Linked DNA regions of Homo sapiens. The protein of the gene in region 3 binds, or shares a complex with, the protein of the main gene of each other region. Each region holds a gene or a part of one and is shown on either strand. Other genes may lie near its edges. The genes, in order: KLHL2, KLHL3 and WNK4.

What was found.
Region 1: the proteins of WNK4 (region 3) and KLHL2 are in contact, whole or in part, in a crystal structure (PDB 4CHB), measured with the Homo sapiens proteins. Residues at the interface, in NP_115763.2 of Homo sapiens: Glu557, Pro558, Glu559, Glu560, Pro561, Glu562, Ala563, Asp564, Gln565; in NP_009177.3 of Homo sapiens: Arg345, Phe361, Gly363, Ser364, Leu365, Arg366, Thr392, Phe408, Gly410, Ser411, Thr412, Gly413, Ser438, Ser439, Tyr455, Ser487, His504, Arg534, Tyr583.
Region 2: the proteins of WNK4 (region 3) and KLHL3 are in contact, whole or in part, in a crystal structure (PDB 4CH9), measured with the Homo sapiens proteins. Residues at the interface, in NP_115763.2 of Homo sapiens: Glu557, Pro558, Glu559, Glu560, Pro561, Glu562, Ala563, Asp564, Gln565; in NP_059111.2 of Homo sapiens: Arg339, Phe355, Gly357, Ser358, Leu359, Arg360, Thr386, Phe402, Gly404, Gly407, Ser432, Tyr449, Gly451, Ser481, His498, Arg528, Tyr577.

The regions. Positions count from the first base shown.
Region 1 is NC_000004.12:165,294,447-165,301,866, forward strand, and holds part of KLHL2 (kelch-like protein 2), read left to right. Parts: coding exon 1-22; intron 23-3,162; coding exon 3,163-3,279; intron 3,280-5,060; coding exon 5,061-5,210; intron 5,211-7,420. UniProt on the Homo sapiens protein: Substrate-specific adapter of a BCR (BTB-CUL3-RBX1) E3 ubiquitin ligase complex that mediates the ubiquitination of target proteins, such as NPTXR, WNK1, WNK3 and WNK4, leading most often to their proteasomal degradation.
Region 2 is NC_000005.10:137,732,964-137,741,228, reverse strand, and holds the start of KLHL3 (kelch-like protein 3), read left to right. Parts: upstream 1-5,139; 5' UTR 5,140-5,582; coding exon 5,583-5,596; intron 5,597-8,265. UniProt on the Homo sapiens protein: Substrate-specific adapter of a BCR (BTB-CUL3-RBX1) E3 ubiquitin ligase complex that acts as a regulator of ion transport in the distal nephron.
Region 3 is NC_000017.11:42,776,228-42,784,029, reverse strand, and holds the start of WNK4 (serine/threonine-protein kinase WNK4), read right to left. Parts: upstream 3,421-7,802; 5' UTR 3,332-3,420; coding exon 2,714-3,331; intron 1,273-2,713; coding exon 1,100-1,272; intron 94-1,099; coding exon 1-93. Other genes in the region: VPS25 (vacuolar protein-sorting-associated protein 25), read right to left, coding at 4,961-5,073, 7,710-7,785. UniProt on the Homo sapiens protein: Serine/threonine-protein kinase component of the WNK4-SPAK/OSR1 kinase cascade, which acts as a key regulator of ion transport in the distal nephron and blood pressure.

The DNA.
Region 1 (7,420 bases), on a different chromosome or scaffold from region 3:
TACCATTTCTTCAGAAGAGAAGGTAAGGATATTTTTCTTTTCCCAGTGTGCAATGATGTTTCCCTTTTTTTTTTTTTAATTTCACTTTTTTTTATAGCTTTGTGATCCTGTATGTGTAGTGACAGCCAGTGATGTTTCAACTGGAAGTTAAGAAACTCAGCTAGTTACTTCAGGAAAGGATTCCAGGAGAAAAAAAAGAAACTCAGGACTTGTTGATTGTCTATGTAAATTACTCCCGGTCTTCACTTTGTGGGAGGTTCCCTAAATTTTTAGCCACTACAGTTTTGTACTTGACCTCCACAGCAAGAGCTTGCACACATTAGACTATCTGAAACAAATGCTTTTTTGGAAACTAGTTTCTTCCTACAACTCAATGCCTGTAGGAATTATGATGTGAACATAATATTTGTCACTAAATTAGTTTCCTTGTCTTCTGAGTTGAAAGAGGTTACCTAGGATGGCGAAGTTTTGGTAGTTCTAGACTGAACATTCTTGATTGTCACCTTCCTTTAGATTGATTTCCTGTGACATAATACCTCACCCCTGCCAGTCCGTTCAGCCTGCCTGCCTCCCTGACTCTCTCCCTCCCTGCCTCCCTCCCTCTCTGTGCAGCTACTGCTTCTGGTTGTAGTCTTTTGTCTCTCCACGTTTTGAATTACCTTTGTCAGCCACCTGCACTTTTCGTATAGTTGGAGAGAGAAGCTCCTTTTAGTGGGCTGTTTTTCCTTGGGTGGGTTTTGTAGCACACGGGAATCAGAGCACAAAAGCTGTGCTTAGAGGAAATGAAACTTGAGTTTCTCCTTTGTGTGCTTAGCATTTCAAGTTGTGTAAATTCTGATTCTCTTTCTCAAGGCTATTCATTTCACCTGGGGTTAAAGACACATTTACTCTAATATTTACAGTATTAAAAAATGTGAAAGCATTTGTGACATATATAATCTTAGCATCCTAGAAATACAGAGGAAGATGACATTACTTTCACACTTAATAGACATGTATTGAGTGCCTTCCATGTACCAGACACTGCCATGGGCTCCTAGAGAAGAGAAGATTAGCAGAATAGAATTTGTTACTCATAGACTAGTGGGACAGCCAGTAGAGTAAATAATTGATTACAGAATGCTGTAAAGGGTGCCTTAGGAGCATTTAACTTTTCCAGGAATGGGATAGGTATGGGGATGGTAGTTCAACTTGGTTCAGATGTATATTTCAAGTCTTTTAAAAATGAGTCTGAGTTTGCCAGAGAAATAGGGATGGGTGGGAATGCAGAGGGCATTCCAGGTAGAAGAAGCAGAATATACAAATGTAAAGAGATATGAAAGAGTAATTGTATTCAATGTGTTCAGTATGATGGGAGTTTAGAATATGAGACATTGGTGGAAGATAAAATTAGAAGATGATATAATAAAATATCTTCTCAGCTATGTTAAAGAAAATTAACTGTATTGTAGTGATGAGCCTTAAAAGGGTTTTAAGCCAGAGGAGAAAACCATGCCAAAACCTGCATTATAGAAATATCATGAGGGCTGTTCTGGTTTTCTGCTGCTACTCAAGTCATTGCCAAATGTAAAAGCATAAACAATAACCATTTTATGCTAACAATTCTATGGTCAGAATTCATGCAGAACAATAGGGACAGCTTGTCTCTGCTCCACAGTGTCTGAGACCTCGGCTAAGGTGACCCAGATGCCTGGAGATACCTGGCATGGTTCTACTGGAGCCATAGATCTGGAGCTTCAGTTCTTCTGCACATGGCATCTTATGGGTCTGTAATGTCCAAGGTGGCTCCTCCACCTACTTTTGTCTGGCTCCGGGGCTCCCGGTTGATTGGTCTCTCTCTAGGTCTCCCTCCTCTCCCCTCCTTTCTTCTCTGTAACTTGCATGGGTTTCTCATGGTGTGGTGGTTTCAAGTAGCCAGACTTCTTACATGACATTTGGCTTCCTTCAAATGAGCATTTCAAGAGAGCAGAGTAGAAGTAGTGAGGCTGCTTAAGACCTACCTTCAGAAATTGCACAGTGTCCCTTCCTCCGCACTCTACTGGTTAACAGGGCCAGCTTAGATTCAGTGTGGAGGGTTACTATATAAGGGTATGGATCTGGGAGATGTGGTTTATTAGGAGGCTATCTTTGGAGACTAGCTATCTGGTGGTGGTGGGCAGTATGGACCAAAAATGAGGTGAGGGCCAGATGAGAGGATGTTGAAGTCATACCAGTGAGCAGCAGGTTCCGATATGGGATGATAGAAGCAGGGGGGAGAGAAGACAGAACTGAGAAATATTAGATAGAATTGCCAGAAGGCCGACTATCTTGTTCACCTAATCTCTGGCACCTGGCACGTAGAGACACTTGATAAATACTTGTTGACAGAATGAATTAAAGAGGGGTGTTAATTTTAATGTGCATTATTTTTAGTTTCTTGCTTTTTTTTTTCAAACTTTGCAAAATGTTTTACTACCTCCATTCTGTTCATTCTTGTTATTTATTTGCAGAAATCAATAAAAGGTTGCCAAAATGTAAGCTGATCCACAAAGTATGAGAGAATTAGTTTCTTGCTTTATTCCTGGATCAAAATAACCTATTTTTGGTCTCAGTTATCCAATTGCATATTGTCAAACATTTCCTGCAAACCTTTAAAGATTATTAAGTGATATATTCATCAGTTGAGAAGAAAATTATGTAGACAAACAGTGTCTTCATATTAGCTTATTAGCTTTCTCACAATTATGTATTGTAAAAAATAATGCCCTTATTTTTTAATTTGTAAAAAAAAATTTCAAAATACTACATTTTAATATATTCTGCTATTACAGAGCTGAGTCGATCTATTGTACAAACCTTCGATTTATGTGTATGGTCTAACATTTGTTTGTAAACCTGAAGAAAAAGCCAAACATGAATTGTTTATAAGGATACATGATTTTCATTCCAGAATATCACTTTGCTTTATTATTTTGGGTAAATAAAAAAAAAAAGAACAGAAAAGAAATGGGGTGAATGGCTTTGTAAGTACATTGCAAGTCAGGATTTTGAAAACACTTGAGCTGTGAATTAAACTTGGATGTCTTAGCAAGAGTTATATATAAAATGTAGTCTCATATTTTATCCAGATGCCTTGATACACAACTCATTTCTTATTTTTTCTTCTCCTATATTTTCTGCAAGGTATTTGAAGCAGTAATAGCATGGGTGAACCATGACAAGGATGTGAGGCAAGAGTTTATGGCCCGACTGATGGAACATGTACGGTTACCTTTGCTTCCTCGGGAATATTTAGTTCAGGTAAATGCATATGCAAAACATATGAATCCACACAGCACTGTGTCACTGGCCTGACAGCATGTAGATCCCTATCAAGCAGTGATAAGAGCTGTAGAATGCAGATCTGTGGAGTACAGGACAGAAGACAGTAAAGGACCCCGCAGGCTGGAGTGCAGTGGCGTCATCTCGGCTCTCCGCAACCTCCACCTCCCGGGCTCAAGTGATTCTTGTACCTCTGCCTACTGAGTAGCTGGGACTACAGGTGCATGCTACAACCCCAGCTAATTTTTGTATTTTCAGTAGAGTTGGGGTTTTGCCCTGTTGGCCAGGCTGGTCTCGAACTCCTGACCTCAAGTGATCTACCCGCCTCGGCCTCCCAAACTACTGGGATTACAGGCCTTGTGAGGCACCACACCCAGCCACCATTCCCCGTTCTTAGAAATTTGCTTTTGCCCCTATTTTTGATTTGGGTAAGCAAGTACTAGAGCTTATCAAGGTAGTATTTGTGGTCACTTAAATACATGTAAATAAATGTCCCTGTGGCAGTCACTGCTTTGCATCTTCTTTACTGTTTTTTTCTTTCCATAGTCTCTTCTGATTCCCCTGCAGACCTGGAATTTTGAGGTCTGACCCAAATACCGTTTAATTTTACTTCGTAATTTAATAGTGGCATGCATTTGATTTCTGTCTTTATTTCTAAGCTGAGGGAAAACATTATTTGAAATAAATGTGAAAAATGATTCTTTAGTGGTCTCCAAATAATTTTAAATTTACTGTTTTTTTTATTAGAATCCCGCTAGGAACATTTCAGCATTATTTTAATAATTGAAACCATTGAAAGAATCATTTATTAAGAAATTAGATTTGAACATTTTAGGATTTCTTGAAATCTCATTACTTTTTGTGATCTGTGTAATCATGGGTCTTCTGGTATTAAGAAGATGATCCAAAAGGGTGGGTGCGGTCAGTGGCTCACGTCTATAATCCCAGCACTTAGGGAGGCGGAGGCAGGCATGAGGCCAGGAGTTCGAGACCAGCCTGGCTAACGTGGTGAATCCCCGTCTCTACTAAAAATACAAAAAATTAGCCAGACATGGTGGCAGGTGCCTGTAGTCCCAGCTACTCAAGAAGGTGAGGGAGGAGAATTGCTGGAACCCGGCAGGTGGAGTTTGCCAGGATTGTACCACTGAACTCCAGCCCGGGCAACAGAGTGAGACTCTGTTCCCTTCCCCCCGCCCCCCCTCCCCCCCCAGAAAAAAGAAAACGAACCCAGAAGCCTGTCCTGCGTTTGAGGTCAGGCTAGGCAGTACAAGATTTATTTGTGTTATGGGTACGTTGCTTTAAGGTATTTCTAATCTCTTTTTGGGATATTTTACTTGCCCACTTGTGTTTGAAAAAGGTATCATTAACTTATTAGTATTGTCTTCACCTGAAGGATGTATTATCTAAACTTTGTTTCTTGTTTTGCTTACTTTTTGTCTTAAAGGTTAAAGATACACAGGTGGATATAATATCCGAAGAGTTCATCATATTCCATAGCTAACATTGAAGTTTATCATTTTTCACTGTGGTTCTTCTTTTTATTACCTATATATGTTTTTCTCTGCAGGCCAGATACTTGAGCATTTTTTGGTTATATTTATTTTTCTCTTAGATGTATTTATAAACTTTCCTCGTTTATTTTTAGACTAAACTAAAGGATATAGTTACTGCTTTTTTCCTCTCCTTTACTTCTTTTTCTTTGGCAATTTAATTATGAAATAGCCCTACCCTCAGTGGGTGTGTCTGATTTCTTGTTACAGAGGGTTGAAGAGGAAGCATTGGTCAAGAATAGCAGTGCTTGCAAAGATTACCTCATTGAAGCAATGAAGTACCATTTGCTGCCAACAGAGCAGCGTATATTAATGAAGAGTGTCCGGACCCGGCTGAGGACACCCATGAACCTTCCCAAAGTAGGATCTGTTTCTCATGCTTGTTATTACCTCATGCAAAAGGCTTATAAGTGAAGCTGTTAGTATTTTGCTCATTTGAATTTCCGTGATTTATTGTTTTAGTTTTCCTTCAAGAGAAAATGTGCCTAAGAATGCATTGTAGTGTATGTAATTCAACCTCTATTGATTTTATATGTTAAGGGTGGGGATTCTTTGGTCCGTTTAATTTTTATAAACTGCATGATGTCACTCTTCTGGAACAGAAGACAACTGGTTTTTGTCCCCTCTGAGTTTTATTAGCTCTAATTATAGTAGAAAGCTCTAATTATAGTCCAAAAAAATCAGACCAGGTAGAAGGATTTCTCTGTAGGCCTGGGGTGCTGTGATTCATGCCTGTAATCCCAGCACTTTGTGAGACTGAGGCCAGTGGATCACCTGAGGTCAGGAGTTTGAGACCAGCCTGGCCATCTACGTGAAACCGTGTCTCTACTAAAAATACAAAAATTAGCCACGTGTGGTGGCAGGTGCCTGTAATCTCTGCTACTCAGGAGGCTGAGGCAGAGAATCACCTGAACCCAGGAGGCGGAGGTTGCAGTGAGCTGAGTGGAGTGCCCACTGCACTCCAGTCTGGGCAACAATGTGACAGGCTCTGTCTCAAAAAAAGAAAAAAAAAAAAAAAGAATTATTTTGTAAGCTAGGTGTTTGTTTAATAACTGAAAACCCAGTAGTTTCACAGAATTACACATTAGAACTACAGATGATAAAAATAGCTTGTTCAGTTCATCTCATTGCTGTTCCCTGCTGTATACCATTTGATGGTTCCCTGCACATCATATGTAGCCATTTCAGCATACATTCCCATGTCTTCCCGTGTGTCTCGTGTTCATATTTTCCTATGTGAATGTTTATATTCTACCTTGGTCTTTTTAGCTGTGGCCATTCATATTTTACCAATTCAATTTTTCTTATGAAATAACCCCTCATTTCTGTCTCTGTTGGCAATTCCTTCTGCTCTGTTTACATCTTTATAGTACGACCAATACTTTAAGCACCATTTTGTGCGTGGTCTAATCAGAATGACTCATAATATAAAGACTTTATTTATGTATTTATTTTTAACTCTTGTATATGTTTCGGGCAATGCTGGATTAAGAAATAAGAATCTGTTCTCTCGTTTTCTTATATCATCTTCAGTTATTACTCTGTCCTTTCCATTGAATTGTTTTTTAAATTCTTTCACTTTAATACTTTAATATTTTTCTAAGTTTTACTTTGGAGTCTACATTTTTAATTGCTGCAAATCTATATTGGTATTGTTTTTCTGTTTTGCCTATTACTAACAACAGTTCTCAATTTATAACTAACTGCAGATTTGCCAGGATGCTGTTGACTTATTTTTCTAGATCGTTAGCAAATATTTTAATTTAGAATTGATCTCAAAACTCTCTTGGTGGCACCTTGTTAGAAGTAGCCAGCCACTGACACAGTCTATTTGTGGAAAGTTTCATTCTATATGATTATTATCTAAGCCAAAATAAGTAGTTTGGCATATAACATCTGATGAGGTTGAGGATCAAATGGATTCAAATTTGGCATGACTTTTTAAACATTCTTCTGCATGGTATTTTATTGGCCCCTAGAAGTTCAAATGCTTTTCTCAAAATCTTCTAAATTTTTACTCAGAATTATCATCACTTAACAAAGTGTATTTACAAGGTATTCACTTCCTATCCTGGTTTGAAAATTTGGTATTTGCTTTCTTTAAATTTTCTGATCTATCCTCAGTTCTCTGAGATTTTTCAGAAATAATTGTAAGTGGCTCAGTAAGTACATTAGCTAGTTCCCTTAATACCTCAGTATTCATGCCAGGTCTGCTGATTTTATATGTGTTTACATTTTTCAAATACCCTTACACCTGCTTTTATAAGTACCCATCTTTTAAGTCTTCATTAATTCATATTTGTCCATCTTATTTGGTGTCAGTTTTTGTTCTTACAAAATAATCCATTTATAAAAATTGTTCAGTCTTGGCAGTGAGTTTAAGGTTGCCATTTATTTTATTTTATTATTTTATGTAAGTCTTTCCAACTTCCTTCTAAATAATGTGCTATATCTTTAATACTTTTTAAATACTTCATATTTGTAAAAAAGAATTTCTTCTTGTATATTCCTTCCTCTAGCATCTTCAGACTTTCCTATATTTAGCTATGCTGCAGAGACCTTTAGAGTGA
Region 2 (8,265 bases), on a different chromosome or scaffold from region 3:
TGGCTTAGCTGTCTTCAGATAAATTTAACTGGCTCCCTGTACAGAGATAGAGTATGGAAGAGAGAACTTTCTAGATAAAACCTAGCTTAAAAAAGTTTCTCCTCCCAACATGGTTTCTTCCTAAGCCACATAAGAGCTGAATGATTCTAAACAAAGTTGGTGTAGATGGCTGAATACATTGCTTTGGGGTAGAGATCTGGGGCCACTAGGGACTTTTGATAAGCTGTAGAAGAAGGCTGGGGTGTGGGAAGGACTGGGCTAAGACAGTGGTCCCTAGGTCACAGACTGGTACTGGTCCATGGCCTGTTAAGAATTGGGATGCACAGCAGGAGGTGAGCAGCCGGCAAGCGAGCATGACCACCTGACCTCTGTCTCCTGTCAGCTCAGCAGTGGCATTAGATTCTCCTAGGAGCATGAACCCTATTGTGAACTGTGTGTGCAAGGGATCTAGGTTGTGCGCTCCTTGAGAAGCTATCTAATGCCTGATGATCTGAGGTGGAACAGTTTCATCCTGAAACCATCATCCCCCCTGACCCCCCACCCCCATCCTTGGAAAAGTTGCCTTCCATGAAACTGGTCCCTGGTGCCAAAAAGGTTGGGGCCTGCTGGACTAAGACACTATTATTGCTGAGCAATCTGAGGATGGGACCTTTTTCTCCAGACAGATACCACATTGATTATTTTGACTCTCCTCTACTGCAGGACTCCAATAGCAACTGTCCTTAATCTGAAGTCCAGTCAGGAAAATTAGCATAGAGCAAACAGGTTCAGACTGTGGTCCAGAGAACATTTGGATAATAAGGTAGAAAATGTAAAATGTGTTTCTGAAACTGGAAAATATTGGGGGTAGGAACTTTGTGCCAGGAGTCTGGAGACTTTGCTTCTTGACTCAGCTCTGCCCCTGGTTTTGCTAGATAACCTTTCTTCCTTTTTTTTTTTTTTCCTAAATTTCATCTTTAATTTTAGATCGAGGGGTACATGTACAGGTTTGTTACATGGGTATCTTGCATGATGCTGAGGTTTGGGGTATGAATGATCCTGTCACCTAGGTAATGAGCATGGTACCCAATAGGTAGCTTTTCAACTACCTTTTTAGGCTTGCTCCTTGTATTAGGTGGTTATTGTGTTGTTATAAAGAAATACCTGAGGCTTGGTAATTTATAAAGAAAAGAGGTTTAATTGCCTCATGGCTCTGCAGGCTGTACAGGAAGCGTGCTGGCATCTGCTTCCGGGGAGGCCTCAGGAAGCTTACAATTGTGGTGGAAGGCAAAGGGGGAGCTGGTATATCACGTGATGAGAGCAGAGGCAAGAGAGTGAGGAGGAAGGTGCCACACACTTTTAAACAACCAGATCTCGAGTGAACTCAGAGTGAAAACTCTTTATTATGGGGACAGTGTGAAACTATTATGAGTGATCTGCCCCTATGACCCAAGCACCTCCCACTAGGCCCTATCTCCAACTCTAACACTGAGGATTACATTCCAGCATGAGATTTGGAGGCTACCAACATCCAAATCATATAACCCCTTTTCCCTCCCTCCATCCTCTAGTAGTCCCCAGTATCTATTGTTCCCATCTTCATGTCCATATGTACCCAATGTTTAGCTCCCACTTATAACTGAGAATGTGTGACATTTGGTTTTCTATTTCTGCACTAATTCACATAGGATAATGGCCTCTCGCTGCTTTCATGTTGCCACAGAGGACATGATTTTATTCTTTTTTTATGACTGTGTAGTATTCCTTGGTATATATATACCACACATTCTTTATTCAGTCCACCATTGATGGGCACCTAACTTGATTTTTTGTCTTTGCTATTTTGAATAGTGCTGCGATGAACATACAAGTGCATGTGCCTTTTTGGCAGAATGGTTTATTTTCTTTTGAGCATATACCTAGTAATGGGATTGCTGGGTCGAATGGTGGTTCTATTTTTAGTTCTTTGAGAAATCTCCAGACTGCCTTCCATAGTAGCTGAACTAATTTACATTCACCAGCAGTGTATAAGCATTCCCTTTCCTCCACAGCCTTGACAACATCTGTTATTTTTAGACTTTTTAATAATGGTCATTTTGACTGGTGTGAGATGGTATCTCATTGTGGTTTTGATTTGCATTTCTCTGGTGAGTAGTGACGATGAGCATTTTTTCATGTTTGTTGGCTGTTTGTATGTCTTCTTTTGAGAAACGTCTGTTCATGTCCATTGCCCACTTTTAAAAATGGGTTTACATGTTTTTTGCTTGTTGAATTAAATTCCTTATAGATTCTGCATATTAGACCTTTGTCAGATGCAGTTTATGAATATTTTCTCCTATTCCGTACATTGTCTGTTTACTCTGTTGATAGTTTCTTTTGCTATACGAAGCTCTTTAGTTTAATTAGGTCTTACTTGTCAATTTTTGCTTTTGCTGCATTGCTAGAAGGGTATTTCCTAGGTTTTTTTCCTTTTTTAAATAGTTTTAGGTCTTACATTTAATTGTTTACTCCATCTTGGGTTTATTTTATTTTATTTTTTGAGACAGAGTCTTGCTCTGTCACCCAGGCTGGAGTGCAGTGGTGCAGTCTTGGCTCACTATAACCTCTGCCTCCCAGGTTCAAGTGATCCTCCTGCCTCGGGCTCCCAAGTAGCTGAGACTACAGGCACATGCCACCACACCTGGCTAATTGTAGTATTTTTAGTAAAGATGGGGTTTTACCAGGTTGGCCAGGCTGGTCTCAAACTCTTGACCTCAGGTGATCTGCCCGCCTTGGCCTCCCAAAGTGTTGGGATTACAGGTATGAGCCACTGTGCCTGAGTTAATTTTTATATATGGTGATAGGGTCCAGTTTCTTCTGCATATGGATAGCCAGTTATCCCAGCATCATTTATTGAAGTCCTTTCCCCATTGCTTATTTTTGTTGACTTTGTCGAAAATCAGTTGGTTGTAGGTGAACAGCTTTATTTCTGGGTTCTCTTTTCTGTTCCATTGGTCTATGTGTCTGTTTTTGTACCAATACCATACTGTTTTGGTTACTGTAGCCTTGTAGTATAGTTTGAAGTCAGTTAATGTGGTGCCTCCAGTTTTGTTCTTTTTGCTTAAGATGACCTTTCTTTTCTAAATGGCCTCTTCTGAGTGTTCTCTATTCTGTCTACCTCCTGTGAATCATGAGTGGTGAATAAAGTATGAAGGTGTAGTCGTATGGTTTTGCAGGGAAATTTAGCAGGGTTTTATACTGGCTCTTAATAGTTATATTTTGAAACTTGAATACATACAACCCTTACATATTTCCTTTTCTGATCTTTTTTCTTTGTCTGGTTTGTTAGATGTGGCATTTCCACACCTTCCTGTATGGCGAATATGTAAACGTGGGTATGTGCAAAGGAGGAGTCATCTCTTTCTTATGTCCCTTTTATGAATCACCCAGTTGTGTTCCTGGTGGATGTCTGAACTCTGGCACGGATTCCGAGATTCAGTTTCCTTATTTGTGATGTTCAGCTTTTTGTGGTCCCTGTGATTGGCCTCAAGAGGAAATATCTGGAGCAGGGCCACAAGGCTGATTAGAGGAGGAAGGGACATAGAGGGAACAAGATATGAGGGGTATTGTTGTGCAAGGAAGAAGTGAAGATACAGCCCTGTGGGGTGTAAATGAAATTATCCAGGCCTCTTCTCACTTGAGAAAGAGTGAGTGTGAGTAATGGCCTTGTCTAAGAGAACACTGAGGTGCCAGGGGAGGTAATCTTTGAGAATAACCCTGTAGCCAGTTTGAGTTCAGGAGGCTATATAAAGTTTTAGTTACTTTTACTTTCTGTCACCTCAGTGTTCCTCTCTTCCTTCTGTGGTTTTAGGGCTTTGTAGTAGTGAAGAAATTTAACAGGTTAAAATGATAAGGATGATAGATTTACTGAGCGTCTCTTCGTACTTTCACCTACATCATGTTATCCTCCTTGAAGCCCCCTACAACACATTGGAGCCTAGTATTTCTTCTTAAACAATCACACGGATTACTCTGAGAAGAAAAACGGACCATTTAAAACATTTTTAGAATCCTGTGATCTTGGAGCTGAAAGGGACTCTAAAGATTGTCTGGTCTGACCCTATATTGTGAATGAGTAGCTGAGCATGAGGTCCAGAGTGTGGAGAACACTACTCAGGAAAGTCACTCACCCAGTGAGTGCTGGTGTGGATTCGGAAAAGCCCAGGGGTGCCATGAGGTGTCCCAGAAGAGAGATGCTCATAGCTGATTTTTTTCTGAGGCATTAGGATAGCTTCTGCACCACTTTTTGCAGCTAATTGTCCCAGTTACCTCTAAGCCTCTGTGGCTAGGATATACAGACTGGCCTCATGCCTTCCACAAGATTATGTTTTAGTTTGGGAAAGAAGATTTATAAATAATGAATTAGCCAAGACTGTATATTAGGTGTGAGATGACGATACAGGAAAGTATAGTTTGTGTATTTTGGTGGTGATTGACTGTCATTGGTGTGATTAGGGAAGGTTTTATGAAGACATGGGATTTGACTGGACTCCCAGAAAGACTAAAGGACTGGGATTGGAGAAGGCATTTCAGGCAGGGAGAGTTAAATTAGTCTAAATTGAAGCTCAGCAGCTGGAGATTACAGGATGTGAAAGATCTTTGGCTGGATATGGGGGTTCAGTGGGAGACTTACTAGTTGGAGCCACTGCTTAAGTTAAATTCCAATATGACAGATTTTAGGAAGATATTTTAGGATTGTGCTAAGATATTTTAGTATTCATTGTGATAGCTTTACTGCAGTAGTCTTTGGCCTCTTGCAGTAAAATAGGGTTTGTTTCAGTTTCACCTATTTGTACTACCTCTCTTTTTCGACTAGTTTTCCAATTTCTCTCTGTATTCTCTTAATTTCTCTCTGTGTTTTTCTCACTTCTGTCAGGTGCTTTTCCCTTAACTTCTCCCCATCTATCAGACACTCAGAGCTACTACAGAATTTGGGAGGAGGATTTGGAACATAAACTGTGACCTACAAGTGAATTTCCCCAGGTGGATGATAAACTCCACTGCAGGCCACAGAGGGGCCTCCTCATTCCAGCAATCTGGCCAGGCTGACAGACTCATAGCCTATGGGAGCAGGGGAGGGTGTAGGGGCCAGTATTTCTCGGGCTAGTGACGAACTGCCTGATTCTTTGCAGCCTAGACAGAGGAGGCAGGAGCCCCAGGGGCGGGCTAATCGCCTGGGCTGGGGATGCCTGGGCAGATGCAGAGGAAGCTGGAAAGGTGGCAGTGCACCTGGGTCGCTGGAGCTGCCGCCGTTCCTAGGAGACCAAGGAGCAGCAAGCCTGCGGGGGAGGGGGAGCAAGTGGGTTGCTGCTTTTAGCAGCTGAAAGGGCTGCAGGGAGCTCTGGGTAAGACATTTTCTGTTGCTGCTGCTTTTGCGGTAGAAGCTGCTGCGAGTAAGTCAGAGGAAGGAGGATTGAGAAGGGAGGAGGCTTCACTTGCAGCCATGCTGAATCACTGTTGCTGATCAGATTTCCCACTGGTCTGCTGGGAGAATCAAGAACAGAACTAGGATCCCCGAGTGCATACACAGTTCAGCAGCTACCACCCTGGCTGGGCCTCACACAATGGAGGGTGAAAGGTATGTATGTATAAGTGTGTGCTGTGTTGTGTGTGTATGTAAGTGTATGTGTGCTTGCGGTGCAGCCACCAGCTTTTGTGTTTGCATTGGCTAGGCAGAGTTGGAAGACCTGGCCACTGATGGATCTTAAAGGGCGCCAGAACAAGAGCAGGAAAGCCGCTTTCCAAATCACCCGTTCCAGGGCTTGAATCTCCAGAGATCTGGCTTCCGCAAAGGCAGGTCTGGGTTTGCTAGGCAGCGGAGCACCCTGAAAGAAGGGACTTCCTGGCTGGTGTTCGGGAATAGTTTCAGCACAGGCTGAATCAGATTGCCTTTCTCAGGCTGTTTCAAGGAGGCGTTTCCCTTTCCTGGCTCCTTTCCCGGGGTGTTTTTTCTTTGGTGGGGGGTTTTTGATGTCATAGTGGGGCTGACCTGACATAGTGTACTTGCATTTTCACGCAGGAGTGCTTGAATCTTCAGCAAGCATGCCATGCTGATGGCTGTGTGTGTGCGCGCGTGCACGCCGTGTATGCCTGTATACACACACATTCAGGGATGAAGGAGAGAAACCCAGTCAGATGATACTTGCTCTGAACTGAGTTTCATATTTGTATTGAAAAGTTTATGAGTGATACTGGAAGGTCTGTGCTTCCTCCATCAGGGATTTCTTTTGAAATAGGAACCAGCAGAAAAGATTTTAAGTACTTTTGTTGAGCTGGATCTAACTAGCGAGGCAGTTAGATCCTGGCAGGCACACACATCTAAATTTTTAAATTGTTATCTGAAGATCTGAATCTTTCATTGTGAAGGTGCTCAGCGCAGTGCAGAGGTGACATTCCTCTGTCTATGAAGTAAAATATCTCTTGAGTGCCAACCTCTTCATTCTTTGGTCTGCAGTTGGTAGAGTACGAGGCTTGCCATTTTATCTGAGGAGAGAAGACTGCAGGGAGGGGTCCGGCCATGGCAGTGCACCACTGAGGGGAAGCCTGCTGCTCCAGATTGCCAGTTTGATGCAGACAGTAACCATCTGGTTAACAATAATAGGCTCAACTAAGTCAACACTAGAGAGTATCTCAATGAACACTTTCCTTTTCATGAGTTGTTGTGACTTCTGTGTCTCACGGGGCACAGTGATGCCATTAAACATCTCTAGACCCTATTAGAACTAGCATGATGATTGGGTGTCATTCTTTTGTCTGTAGAGGCCCTGGGAACTGTGTTTCTTGATGACTCCCACAGGAAGAGCCTGGGACTGACTGTGCTGCTGGTGCATTCTCTTTCTGGGTGCTCTTTGCAACAGGAGTTTAGTGTTGAACTCTGTGAGGCCTGCTGAGCAGCAGAATATGAAGGCCTATTTCCTAAGTGTGGGGCAGAGGTGAGCAGTGTCTTTGGTCCCCAAAACAGTGTCCCATTGATCTGGTAGGTGGCAGAGAATGGGGTTGATGCGATGAAGGTTTAGAGATTCTGGGCCATGCCTATTTGCTTGACCTGTGGTGTAACTGGGGTTGAGAGGTCAGTGTGAGACTACCAGCAGCGGATCAAACAGTTTTGGGCACTGTGTTCCCAGTTCTGTGTTCAGAAATATAGTGAGTCCTTGCCCCTGTCCTGGGGCCTCTCAGCTGGGATGGCTGATGTCTATGGCTTTAGAACACCAGGTTGCACATGTTCTTGTACTTTTCCTCTGCTGAAGGCAGATGGTAGACAAGAAATCCAAACCGAGCAGCTTCCAATGTTCACCAGGTCACCCAGGTCATACCTTTTGTTCCTGCTCCAAGTCCAGCTTACCATGCCACGCGTTCAAGTCTTCTGAACTCTAACTCCTGTTCCCATTTCCACTGCTCACTCATATACCTACTGAGAATTCTGTTGATCTCTTTCATGATCACCCATCCTATACATTACTCCATCTAGCCTCATATCCTTAGCTCCCAGAGTTTCTTTTGCTGGATGTCTTTCCCTTCCAATTTTGCAAAAGTTATCTATCTATCAAGGTTATTCTAAAATTCTACTTTATCTTGGAAACTCAGCTTTTCTAGTCCTGGCTGATGTTCTTCGGAATTCTAATACCTCTGGTTTGTATCTCATAGTTGGACACTGAATAATAGGCCCACCAGATCTTTCAGTGCTTTTATTTCATATATCTTAGCAGTCCCCAGACTTGGAGACAGGTCCTCAAGGGCAAGGCTGGTGCCTTGTACTTCTAAATACCCCCATTGACTACTGCATGGGTACACAAATAGCAGGTGCTGAATAGTTATTAGCTGATTAGCTAATAACTTTTGTGTGAGGCTCTGATAACTAAAAAGAAAGTTGGTGAAAGAAGAGACTGAAGCCTTTGGCCAATAGCCTCATCTTTGGATATCAGCCTTATTATCTTAGCACGGGTAACTGACTTCAAGGAATGCTTTGAGGTAGGGGGAGAACAGAGGGAAGTAGCCTTGTTTTACAAGTTCCCTGGGAAATTGAGGTCCAGAGAAGCTGAGTGACTCGCCTAGGATCACATGTCCAACCTCCAGAGACTGGAGGGATCCTCAATCTGGTGCTCATTCCACACTTAACCTGCTGAATCTTAATCGGGGCTGTTTTTAAGCATTACAAAATTTCAACCAAGGGATTGCTAATGAACAATTTTTTTTTTCTTTGCCATGAGGGTATGAAAATACTTTCTACCTTGAAAGGCTATTAATTAA
Region 3 (7,802 bases):
ACCCGGGAGTGTAGGAAATGAAGTCCCCGCAGGATTTGGCGGCTCCAGCGCTGAAGGACCCGCGGCTTCATCTCCCGGAACCGCCTCAGGTACCTGGGGGAGGGCGCATAGCCAGAGTCCTGGTGGGGGGACACGTCCTCCGGGAAGGAGCCCCCCACTGGGAAGTTCCCCCCTGCCGCACCCTGCTGCCGCCTCCGCATCTTCTGCCAGCATTCTCCTAGCCTATGTCTGCCCGGCCCCAGGGAGAAACTGAGTCAGGGGGCATGGTGGATAGACATGACGTTACCAAACGGGTTGGGAAGTAAATTGATAGATAGGGCCTCGGCCAAGGTGCTGTGGGAGCGCAGGAAGGGATGACTAACTGCCCCAAGCATGAGGGAGAGCTTCGGAGAGGAAATACTTTTGTGTTGCATCTTGAATGATGAGTAGGAGCTCAAAGGTGAAAGGGGGAAGGGATGGAGACTTCCCAGGCAGACAGGACACCGTGCTCAAAGGCACAGAAAAAGCCAGTGACAAGGCAGGGTGGGAGGAGGTGCCAGGAATTTGGTGTGTCTGGAGCTTAGGCTGAAAGTGAGGCTGTATCCTAAGGACTTTGTGAACAGGTGAGCCTGTGTGGGCTTTATTCCAAGGCCATGAGAAACTTTGAAGGGGTTTTAAGGAGGGGAGTGACAGTTCAGATTTTCAACTGGGAAAGATTCTCCAGGCTGCAGGAAGATAGGATCGCTTAGAGGGTGGCAGAGTTTGGGAAGGCCCTTTAGGAGGCTGCTGCAGGGCTCCAGATCAGCGAGATGGCATTGAGGTGGTGGCATGGATGAAGCAGTGAAAGCCAGGTGGGGAGAGGTTAAGGAAAGACTTGGGGACAGACTGATGAGGGGGCAGAGTGGAGAAAGAGGAGTCTGGGGAGACACCCAAGTATTTTACTGGAGTGCTGGGTGGACATTGCCACTCACCGAGGCAGGGACAAAGGTTGGGTGAGAGGGAGATGGTGAACCTGGTTTTACACCTGGATATTAGAGAGTTTGAGGAGCCTGGGAGTTCAGGAAGCAGTGGGCACACATCCCAGCCTCCCTCTCCCCACCCACTCATGCGCAGAGCTCACGTCTTGAGCGTGCCCGAGGTCATGAGTTCGGTGACCAGCACGATGCAAACCTGGCCCCTCAGCACCGACTTCCACGAATCATAGAAGCGGACGATGTTGGGGTGCTGCAGCCCCTTGAGCATCTCCACCTCCTCTGAGAAGCGCTGCCGCTCAGCTCTAGACAGTTTCCGAGTCTGTGGGATGGGGGACGGGTGTCATGTCAGGCCCAGGACACCCACAGAAAGGAAGAGGGACACCTGGAGTGGGGTTGGGGGAAGAGGTGAGGGTTGGAGCCCACAGATGGGGTGGGGTTAATGGGATTACTTGCCCAGTGGGCTGCAGACCCTGAACTCTCCAACAGTCCCGCACGTAAGCTGATCCAAGGACACACCCAACCTGGGCCTGGGGCAGCCCCCTAGACCCCCTGCTGGACACAAGCACCTTTATGCAGCCCGGTCCCAGAGCCCTGAGCTCAATAGTGCCTTTGTGGCTGCCCAGGCCGGCCATGGGGCGGGAGGGGGCACCCGGGGGCTGGCAGTGAGCAGGCAGCAGGCGGGCAGCAGGATACTGCGGGCAGGGAATTGGGGCCGGCAAGGGGGTTGGCCCCAGAAACAGAACTGCTAGATCCAGACGGAAGGCGGGAGGGATATGGAGGGAGGTACTGAGAAGGAAAGAAAAGATCCAGGACTAGGCGCCAGGAGGCTGCCCACCCCCATAGTCGTCCCGCCCCGGCTCCTCTCCCTCCCCTCACCCCCCAATTTGGCTGCCTCTCCTGGCCTGGCCCAGAGCCTGGGGCGCGGCACTGGCAGGCGCAAGGGGCGAGCCCTGTGCCAGGGCTGGAGAGGGACCCTTCCCCTAGGCTCTGTCCCCTGATCTGAATCGGAAGCTTCAGGCCCCAAGTTGACTGGGTTCTCCTAACCCATATGTAGCATGGGAGCAATGGGAGGAAGGTCCCCCTAAAGCCCATGGGCTTAGTGCCTTTAGGTCTGGGAAGGGAGAGCACAGGTAGGCAGTGGGATGAGGAGCAGAACTGGACTCACTCGAGAGCTGGAGCTCCCTATGTCCCCCTCCTCGCAGCTGTGGAGAAGTCCAGAAGTCTGACTGCTCCAGAAGGGGTTAGGGGGCCCTATTCTGCCACAACTGCCCTAAATCTTCTGGAGTTGGAGATGACCCTTGCCCAGCTCCTGGCTTCCCGCATCCCAGCCTCCTGGTCTGCAAATAGGTGGGGGACGGGAGGAGTGAGGGGATCAAGAGGACCAGGGTCATAACTGAGGATCTCAGGACTTAGGGGAGAGGAAGGGATTGCGGGTACCCACCAGCAGGAAACTGACCTGAACTGGCTCCCCTGCCTAACTTCCCATCCTATTTTCCACCTCTCAGGGTTGAGTATGGAGACTTTAAAGTGAGAATGTTCATACCCATGGGGGAGTCACCAGACACCACCTGCCTCAATCTCTCCTTCTGCAGCCCAGAGTCAGCCAGATCATTCAGGGCAAAGACAGCAGAGGTGTCTATAGACATTTGACTGGAAAAATACATGCTTCCCTTGATGCTGTCTCCCCCACCCTCTGTCTGTCATCCTAAGACCTCCAGAGTCCCATCCCAAGGTGCCACCGAGGGGGCTCCCAGCCGCACCTGCAGCTCACACCAGGCCACCTCCACTGTGGTGTCGGTGTCTAGCCCTCGATACACCGTCTTGAAGGAGCCACGTCCAATCTCGATGTCAAACTTGAGGTATCGGCCATCGGGGGACGTTGCCACAGCCTGGGTCTCCATGTCCTCCTTTTCTTCCTGCTCCCGCCGCCGCTCTAGGGCCACAGCTTCAGGGACCCTTAGCGGCTCCCTGGACCCCGGGCCCACTGCAGAGTCCGGGAGCTCGGGACGCGCGGAGTCTTCCGCAGCCTTCACAGGGGCTCCCTCGGTCCACGTGCCCTCGGGGGGTTCTTTGGAGCTAGGCGGTGGGCTCCTCGCGGGGCCAGGACCAGCGGAGTCCGGAGGATCGGGGGGGTCCGGAGCGGGTGAGGCTGGCAGGGACCAAGAGCTCAGCAGCCCCAAGTCGACTGAGCTACGGCGGCTGAGACGAGAAGAGCGCGGCCGGGGCTCAGCCTTCCCGGAGAAGCGGCGCGCTCGGCGAGGAGGGGGCCCGAGGCGGGGCTGCCCCGCGGTGCCAAGAGGAGGCGGGGGCCGCAGGGCCAGGTCGGCCTCAGTCTGGGACATGAGGACGGTGGTCTCCGTGGCCGGGGATGCCAACATGAGGAAGAGCAGGGCGCCGAAGGGTAGAAAATCAGACGGCCGGAGAGGAGGCGGCCTGACAGACGGACTCGCTGGGTGCGCTGCGCTCCGGCTGAGCGGCTGCGGCCCCAGCCCCCAGCTCGGCCTGGCCCCGCCCCCGTCGCCGCCCCGCGGCCCGCCCTTGCCCCCCAGGGCCGCCCCTCCGAGCTGCTCCCGCGGTGCGGATCCCGCGAGCAGCCCCTCACCTTAGTCACCGCCCCGCCCAGCCGCGTCCCCTTCTTTCCCGAGCCCCCGGCCGCAGTCTCACTCTGAGGCCAGAACTGAGTGGGAGACCGCGGAGCATCCTCCCGCACTAAGAGTGAGCAAACCTGTTTGTGCGCGGAGGAGGGCAGGAGAGAACGACACCCGGACCCTAGTGGGGGATTACTTAGGGGGAGGCTACCACCCTCCTGCACACCCCAGATAAGGCAGCACCACCCCCTCCTAACTGTCCGGAGTAGCCCCAGGCCGAACGGAGAGGTCAGTGGAAAGGTCTGACGTTGTTGTCCCTCTGGTCTGCATAGGGAATGGGTGTGTACTCCCCAGGATAAGTCCCTCCCCCAAACCGAGAGCCCGGTCATCCATCCCCTCCAGGCCACCTTGGCCGCAGCCTAACCCTGGCCAGAGTGGCTGTTTTTGCTATATGGGCTCTCCTTCCTCCCCTTCTGTTTGCCAGTCTCCAATAAACCAAAGTCCACATCCGGCTTACCCCCCTCAGCTCCCCTTGGCCACAGTTACCCCACCCAGACCAGATGGGTGGAGGGAGGGGCTTCAGAGTAGTTCAGGACTTCCATGAGGGAGATGGTGAGGGAAGGGGGAGCCCTTAAGTGACTCCAATTCAGAGAGAAAGCAGTCTGTCCCCAAGCTGTGTTCCATCAGCACTCCTCCACACAGCCCACCCAGCAGATGTAAAACCACAGGCTCACTGGAGCCCACAGGGCCCTGGAGGACCTTTTCTTCTACAAAAGCCATAAGCTTTCTTTTCTCTCCCCTCTCCCAGGCTGGGATTTACTCAGGTGGCAACACTTCACAGCCCTCCCCATCCCCATTCCAGTACTGTAGTAATTTAAGAGGCAGGCAGTGGGAGTTGAGATTTTAATATCATAAATCGGTGTGGGGCCACACCTCTCACTGCCAGGCCCGTGGGCCTCCTATCTTCATATTGCCTGGAAGGCTGCCTGCAGCCAGGGCTTCCCCCATCCCCTAGGAAGGATCCAGCACCAGCCTGAGAAGGGAGGCAACAGCAGCTAAAGGGGTGGGAGGAGGAGGAGACAGAAGCATGTGCTGCAGGCGCATGTGTGTATGTACTTACATGTGTGAACACATATAAAGTGTCAGGTTTACAGACCCTGGCTCAAGGACAGTCTAGGATGGGAAAGGAGGTAGGGCGAGAAGAAGCACATATTTTCTCCCTGGTGCTTCAGCCTCACCCTATCCAAGGGACAGACATATGGGGTGTGAGAAACCCATCCCCAGGTCCCAGCCTTCAGGACTGGAGTCCTTTTGAGTCTGGTGGAGTCACAGATCCAGTCTTTGGGGGACACTGGGTCTGTCTCCTTTTGAAAGCCCTGGAAAGGTGGGAGGTAAGAAGTAAAGGGAGACAGGTCCCTGCTAGAAGAACTTGACGCCTCGGCCATCGCTGACAGTGATGATCTCGGCCTTGTGCTCCTGCTGTAGGGCCTGCAGAGCCCGCAGTAGAGTGGCTTCATCCAGCCCGTGGAACTCTGAACAGGGAGAGATAGGCAGAGACAATCAGCTCCTGAGGCCCAAGGCCTCTGAGGAGAGTGCTCTGGCTGGAAGCCGAGACCTCCCAGAGGCAGGGTATGCATAAGCCATCTATACTGCTACAGCTGCCATCCACACTTCCCAGGCACTCCTTAGGAGTAAGGGGTGGAAGAAAGCCTGAATCAGCATGAAATGAGTTTGTGCTTATTTCCCCCTTCTTGGTTCTCCTCTCAGACTCAGCCTCCCCCACACCTAGCATTTGTGTCTGATGCACGAGAATGACACCATCTGCTTCAGGGCCACAAAGGGGCCGTGAAAATCAGGCCTAGGGAGATCGGAGCCATTGTCACTAGACACTGACCCTAGAGGATCTATCCTAACACAAAGAATATAGCCAGTACCCCTGGCCAGGAGACTGTTAAACTCCAGCACTATTATCTGCCCTTTTTCTAGCTTTTAGCTGGGAGCACAGGCCAGGCGCGGTGGCTCACGCCTGTAATCCCAGAACTTTGGAAGGCTGAGGTGGGAGGGTCACTTGAGATCAGGAGTTCTAGACCACCCTGGCCAACATGGAGAAACCCTGTCTCTACTAAAATTACAAAAAATTAGCTGGGCATGGTGGTGGTCACTTGTAATCCCAGCTACTCAGGAGGCTGAGGCAGAAGAATCACTTGAACCCGGGAGGTGGAGGTTGCAGTGTCAAGATCGTGCAACTGCACTCCAGCTTGGGGGACAGAGCAAGACTTTGTCTCAAAAAAAAAACCAAAAAAATTGGGGAGCCTATGGCTAGCTGAGTATGTGGAGATATGGTAAGATACTGCAGGGAGATGTGGGAGGCAGCAGGCAAGCCCTGACAGGCTTGCTTACCTCACCCCCTGTGGGGGCTCAGCTAAGTCAGGGAGCTTGCTTTCTGAGGAAACCTACAACTTTGCCCAACCTGAGTGGTGGGCTAGGCAAGGCTACAGTGCTGAAATCATGGGGTGATGGTGGGAGTAGCAAGCAGAGACCTGCAGGGCAGCAGGGGGAACAGCCAAGAGCTATAAACTCTGCTAGGGCAGCCAGGGCCTGGCAGAAAGGGGAGACACCCTCTGTTATCCCAGCTAAGATCGAAACTTGTGGTGATCCAGAGGATCAGAATCTGGAGTCGGAGAAAAAGAACTAAGAGTGTTTACGCTATGTAAAAATCAAACACTATACAAATCCTTGCCTGGCCAGAAACCAAAGTATATAAATGGGCTGGGGGTGTTGGCCTAATCTCTTCAGCTGACACCCACAGATCTTGAGCCCTCTATAAGAATAAAGGGTGAAAGAGAGCCTGAGTCAGCAAGGAATGAGATTTCAAGCTTAATCCCCTGCCCTTGTTTCTCATTCGGCATCTATAGCAGATGCTGAATGAAGAAAGTTATTTATAATTTTTTTTATTGTTATTATTTTTATTTTCTGAGACGGAGTCTCGCTCTGTCATCCAGACTAGAGTGCAGTGGTGCGATCTTGGCTTACTGCAACCTCTGCCTTCGGGTTCAAGCGATCCTCCTGCTGCAGCCTCCCAAGTAGCTCAGATTACAAGCATGCACCACCATGCCCGGCTAATTTTTGTATTTTTAGTAGAGACGGGGTTTCACTATGTTGGCCAGGCTGGTCTGGAACTCCTGACCTCAGGTGACCCACCTGCCTCGGCCTCCCAAAGTGCTGGGATTACAGGCGTGAGCCACTGCACCCGGCCTATTGTTATTTTTTAAGATAGCATCTCGCTCTGTTGCCCAGGCTGGAGTGCAGTGGCGTGATCATAGCTCACTGCAGCCTTGACCTCCTGGGCTCAAGTGATCCTCCCACCTAAGCCTTCTGAGTAACTGAGACTACTGGTGCACAGCACCATGCCCAGCTGATTTTTAAATTTTTTGTAGAGACAGGATCTCCCTGTGTTGCCCAGGCTGGTCTCAAACTCCTGACCTCAAGCAATCCTCCCACCTTAGCCTCCCAAAGTGCTAGGATTACAGGCACGAGCCACTGTGCCCAGCTGAAAGTGAAATTCTTAACTTTTCATGGGTCATAGATGCCCTTGGAAATCTTGTAATATCTAATCTATCCCTAGAAAAATGCACATGCATCCACAAAAACAAAATTTGGGATTTTTTGCATGTGAATTCAGGTGGCTTATGGAATCCTTGGACATGGGTTAAGAACTTAGAATCGCTTGAACATAGGAGGCGGAGGTTGCAGTGAGCAGAGACTGCGCCACTGCACTCCAGCCTGGGATACAGTGACTCTGTCTCAAAAAAAAAAAAAAAAAAACAGGCGGGGCACAGTGGCTCACGCCTCTAATCCCAGCACTTTGGGAGGCCAAGGCAGGCGGATCACGAGGTTAGGAGTTTAAGAACAACCTGGCTAACATGGTGAAACCCCATCTCTACTAAAAATACAAAAAATTAGCCAGGCGTGGTGGCGCACACCTGTAATCCCAGCTACTCAGGAAGCTGAGGCAGGAGAATCGCTTCAACCTAGGAGGCGGAGGTTGCAGTGAGCCGAGATTGCAACATTGCACTCCAGCCTGGGTGACAGAGCAAGACTCCATATCGGAAAAACAAAACAAAACAAAACAAAAAATTAACTATGAGTGGGAAGGGAAAGGCATTACCCTCATCCTCTGTGTCTTCCCCATTAGTCAGTTCATACAGGGTAAAGACGGAGTTGTTCTGGCCACTCCTGGAAACCTGTGAATACAGAAAAT